2 separate regions of the Homo sapiens genome follow, and region 1 is linked to region 2. The links come from fine-mapping of genetic effects on gene expression. Tissue or cell type: whole blood. Region 2 holds a variant in brackets; the other region holds the start of a gene. All regions are shown on one strand. Distances are between the middles of the regions.

Evidence for each region. PIP is the estimated chance that this variant, and not a neighbour inherited with it, causes the effect.
Region 1: it holds the start of GXYLT1, and the variant in region 2 is fine-mapped to the expression of GXYLT1 in whole blood (INTERVAL, PIP 0.97).

Annotation. Positions count from the first base shown.
Region 1 is chr12:42,143,179-42,145,938 of GRCh38, forward strand. GXYLT1 (glucoside xylosyltransferase 1) reads right to left here and starts at 1,696. Exons shown (of 8, transcript NM_173601.2): 1 at 1,248-1,696. The coding sequence starts at 1,468. RefSeq lists silencers at 1,084-1,313, 1,394-1,893 and an enhancer at 2,054-2,123.
Region 2 is chr12:42,062,206-42,064,965 of GRCh38, forward strand. No RefSeq gene overlaps it. Among named protein-coding and RNA genes, the nearest start is that of GXYLT1, 81 kb to the right of the region's middle. The variant A/G (reference allele first, on the strand shown) is at 1,733.

The DNA.
Region 1 (2,760 bases), 81 kb after region 2:
TTGCTTCCTTACAATTCTACCCCATATAAAAATAATTCCTTTTCCATAATTGCAAATGCTTCACAATAACATACTAGGCCATAAACAGTTTAGCTTCAACCTGTCATTTTTCACGAGCTCATTCAAGTCTTCAGTGACTGCTTTCTCCCAGGACAGACAACTGAGGGTCCTGATGTAGGAATTACCCTGACTGTAATCAAATCTCAGGGTAAAAACATGACAAGTCCGCTTTCCACGCTGCTCCTCTGCCCAAACTTTCCCCTTTCATTCTGGGAATGACCATCGACTCTCAAAATGATGTTAAACAACAGCCCACAACTGATCTATACTCCCTCTTCCGACAAACCCTATACTTCTCTATATCAAAGCAGCATTTGCCAAGTCTTGGTAGGGAGCACTTCAGGTCATTCCCAGAGAGATGCCCATACATAAGGTGGAAGTGTCCATGTTGCAAGGCAGTGCAAACGCTCAGATTTCAAGCATTCATAATGCGTTGACAGAAACATTTTTTTTCTATTTAAATCTCATGTTGATTCCCACTCTGGCAGTGATTACGTCCTAAGTCATTACGTCGCTTTTTAAATACCAATTTGTCAAGAAAGGTAACTCCATCCCATCCAACAACAGACTTGAGCACGCCAAGTATCGCTCATTTTTCTTAATTTGCTCTAAGTTTCTTAATAAACTGAGTGTTTCCAAAAGAAAATTTCACAACCCGCACAAATGCCATTTCCAAATTTAACTAACCATGGCTAATACTTAGAAGTGTAAGCGTTAACACAGGAAAATCAGCATGAGGGACAAAATACACACACATATACACTCACACACACACACACAATCCTTAAACACTGAACTAGGGCGCCAGCCTCATGTTTAAATATCTCAACTTGAACTCCACTGAAACAAGAGGAAATTCTCACTAGCCAGGCAGCAGTAAGGCTTTTGTGGACACCTCTTATTTTCAAAGAACCCTCTTTTTAAAAAGTTGAAAATTAATTTCTAACTGCTTTAAAGGGCGCATGACTGGGTCAAAAGATAAACACAGAAAGTGTAGGACACTCTCAGGCGGGAGCAGCGCAGGTTTAGCCCCGGCCGGAGGGGAAGGAGGGAAATGAGTGAGGGGTCAGAGACAGGAGGAAAGACGCGGGAGACGCGGCACCCACCGGCGAGCAGCCCGGGCTAGGCCGAGCCCGCGCCCAGCGCCCCGCGCCCGCCGCGTCCCCCACACCGGGAACTGCCCGTACCTGTCCGACACGCCGGGATGCGCTGCGGGGCCCGCGACGCCGGCGCCTCTCACGGCGCCGCGTCCGCCGCCCGCGAGCCAGGAAGCCACCGCGGCCTGCGGCTTCCCGCCACCGCCGCCCGTTCCTTCTTCCAGGGACACGGCGAGCTGGCTGAAAGCGTAAAGGAGCGAGCAGAAGCCGCAGGCCACACACAGCACCACGACGCGCAGGTAGCGCCGCATCGCCCCGGCCGCGCTCCTCCTTCGCCGCCGCCGCCGCGCCCGCCCCGACGAACTGGAGCGGAGGGAGGGGCACCGCGCAGCCGCGGGCGCAACAAGTTCCTCACCCGCAGCCGCCGCCGCCGCCTTGCGCCCGCTCCCTTCCTTCCCTCCCCGCCCACCACCTAGGCGAGCGCAGTCGCGGCTCCGGAGCCGAAGGACTACCCGCCCGGAAGCCTGGACACCGCCTCTGCCGCCGCGCGCTCAAGGGTCAGCGGCAGCGACGCAACCCCGCCCCTCCCCCGGGCGGGAGGGCTGGACGCGCCGGCGCAGTTCGCGTGGGAGGGACGCAGGGCTGGCGCGCAGAGGGTGGTGTGAGTGCGCGGAACGCGGCGCGCCTGAGGGCTATAGCTAGCGCAGGCCGACGCGCAGGTGAATGGGAGCCCTGTGGGTCTCGACCGCCGAGAGAGGGGGAGCGAAAGCCTCAGGGCTCTGGAGGCAGTTGACCTAAATTCTAATTATGGTCCTTCCACATGGTAGTTTGTGACATTGGGCAACCTAAATTCTCTGAGCATGTTTCTTCGTCCCTAAAATGGAGCTACTATCCTCATCATGGGGTGGTTGTAAAGATTAAACTGTTTAACGCTCGAAAACCGCCTAACACTTAGAAGACACTTGACTAGGCCAGTTTCCTCTCCATCCTCCCCCAGCCTCTAAGTTTCTGTGATACTATAATGTGCACGAGCCATTTTCACCCCGATAAGCTCATTGCTTCGTGTGTTTGGTATGCGGACCTTACCTCTTGCCTCCCAGCAGACAGTGAGTTCCTGTAAGGCAGGGCTCTTCCCTTTGACCTTTTTGACCTCCCTCACAACTCATTATTTTCATGTGCAAAACAATTAGTATTCTCTCCACAGAGCTTCTTTCTTCCCCAGTTCTTCTCCCTCTTCTTCTGTGTTTCCACTACGTTCATTCATTGACCATTTATAAAGCATCACTTGTGCCAAGCTCTGTGTGAGTACCTAGGGGTATAAAGAGGCCTAAGTGGAGCGTGGGTGGGACAGCGGATACTTGTAAATAAGCGCAACGCAGTGATAACAGACTTAAGATCCAGGCCTGTAAGGGTGTGGGCATACACACAAAGGAACAATCAGTTCTATCTGTGAGTATGGTCAAGAGAGACTTCATAGCAAAGGTGGCGCTAGAGTCTTGAGTCGGGTAAGGGAAGTAATTCCAGGCTGAAGGATCAATAAACAGGCTCTTGTGTAGGGAACTGTTGAGAAGTTTGATACCACCAGCTAAGTGAATGCAAGAGA
Region 2 (2,760 bases):
GTTTTATTAAAAGCTAAAAGCAGGCCCTTTTCCTTCCATTTTTTTTCTCCATAGCTAAAAAGGAGATGGTAGATGGAACCAGAATGGCATTCTTATACTACTGGTGGAAGCTATTTGTTAGGAATGACCAAGGAGCAGGCTAGAAGGAGATTGAGTCCCTGATAATAACAGAACTTCCAAATCAGCTTTGACTACATTTATGTGAGAGAATAAGCTTCTATCTTCTTTTTTCTCATTTAAAAGAAAATTATCAACTTGATCATATAAGTTTAAAGATGTAACCATCTTACTTTGTTACATCTCCATCAAGATAGTTCAGTATTTAGGTTACAGGTATATGACTGAGAGTTCAATTCTCTTTTGTGATAAGCATGGATTATTCGAGCTATCATTCAATATTCACTTTTCAGATACATGAAGCTTGTTGACTCACATTCAAATTCACATTTGCTACTTTTTAAAATCATTTCTCGGGGCCAGGCATGGTGGGTCATGCCTGTAATCCCAGGACTTTGGGAGGCCTAGGTGGGTGGATCACTTGGGCTCAAGAGTTTGAGACCAGCCTGGGCAACATGGTGAAACCCCATCTCTATCAAAAATACAAAAAGTTAGCTGGGTATGGTGGCACACACCTGTGGTCCCAGCTACTCAGGAGGCTGAGATAGGAGGATTGTTTGAGCCAGGGAGGCAGAGGTTGCAGTGAGCCAAGATCGTACCATTGCACTCCAGCCTGGGTGACAAAGTGAGACCCCCTCTCAAAAAAAAATCATTTCTCGGAGGAGCCAAGATGGCCGAATAGGAACAGCTTTGGTCTACAGCTCCCAGCGTGAGCGATGCAGAAGACAGGTGATTTCTGCATTTCCAACTGAGGTACTGGGTTCATCTCACTGGGGAGTGGCAGACAGTAGGCACAGGATAGTGAGTGCAGCGCACTGCACGCGAGCCAAAGCAGGGCGAGGCATTGCCTCACCTGGGAAGCGCAAGGGGTCAGGGAATTCCCTTTCCTAGTCAAAGAAAGGGGTGGCAGATGGCACCTGGAATATTGGGTCACTCCCACCCTAATACTGCGCTTTTCCAATGGGCTTAAAAAACGGCACACCAGGAGATTATATCCCTCACCTGGCTCAGAGGGTCCTATGCCCACGGAGTCTGGCTCACTGCTAGCGCAGCAGTCCGAGATCAAACTGTAAGGCAGCAGCGAGGCTGGGGGAGGGGCATCCACCATTGCCAAGTTAGTTGTTTGATTAGGTAAACAAAGTGGCCAGGAAGCTCAAACTGGGTGGAGCCCACCACAGCTCAAGGAGGCCTGCCTGCCTCTGTAGGCTCCACCTCTGGGGGCAGGGCACAGACAAACAAAAAGACAGCAGTAACCTCTGCAGACTTAAATGTCCCTCTCTGACCACTTTGAAGAGAGTAGTGGTTCTCCCAGCATGCAGCTGGAGATCTGAGAATGGGCAGACTGCCTCCTCAAGTGGGTCCCTGACCCCCGAGTAGCCTAACTGGGAGGCACCCCCCAGTAGGGGCGGACTGACACCTTACACGGCCGGGTACTCCTCTGACACAAAACTTCCAGAGGAACCATCAGGCAGCAGCATTTGCGGTTCACCAATATCTGCTGTTCTGCAGCCACCGCTGCTGATACCCAGGCAAACAGGGTCTGGAGTGGACTTCTAGCAAACTCCAACAGACCTGCAGCTGAGGGTCCTGTCTGGTAGAAGGAAAACTAACAAAC[A/G]GAAAGGACATCCACACCAAAAACCCCTCTGTACGTCACCATCATCAAAGACCAAAGGTAGATAAAACCACAAAGATGGGAAAAAAACAGAGCAGAAAAACAGGAAACTCTAAAAATCAGAGCATCTCTCCTCCTCCAAAGGAACGCAGCTCCTCACCAGCAACAGAACAAAGCTTCGTGGAGAATGACTCTGATGAGTTGAGAGAAGACGGCTTCAGACGATCAAACTACTCCGAACTACAGGAGGAAATTCGAACCAATGGCAAAGAAGTTAAAAGCTTTGAAAAAAAATTAGATGAATGGATAAATAGAATAACCAATGCAGAGAAGTCCTTAAAGGACCTGATGGAGCTGAAAACCAAGGCACAAGAGCTACGTGACGAACGCAGAAGCCTCAGTAACTGATGCGATCAACTGGAAGAAAGGGTATCAGTGATGGAAGATGAAACGAATGAAATGAAGCGAGAAGAGAAGTTTAGAGAAAAAAGAATAAAAAGAAACGAACAAAGCCTCCAAGAAATATGGGACTATGTGAAAAGACCAAATCTACGTCTGATTGGTGTACCTGAAAGTGACAGGGAGAATGGAATCAAGTTGGAAAACACTCTGCAGGATATTATCCAGCAGAACTTCCCCAATCTAGCAAGGCAGGCCAACATTCAAATTCAAGAAATACAGAGAACGCCACAAAGATATTCCTCGAGAAGAGCAACTCCAAGACACAGAATTGTCAGATTCACCAAAGTTGAAATGAAGGAAAAAATCTTAAGGGCAGCCAGAGGTTGGGTTACCCACAAACGGAAGCCCATCAGACTAACAGCTGATCTCTCAGCAGAAACTCTACAAGCCAGAAGAGAGTGGGGACCAATATTCAACATTCTTAAAGAAAAGAATTTTCAACCCAGAATTTCATATCCAGCCAAACTAAGCTTCATAACTGAAGGAGAAATAAAATACTTTACAGACAAGCAAAGGCTGAGAGATTTTGTCACCACCAGGCCTGCCCTATAAGAGCTCCTGAAGGAAGC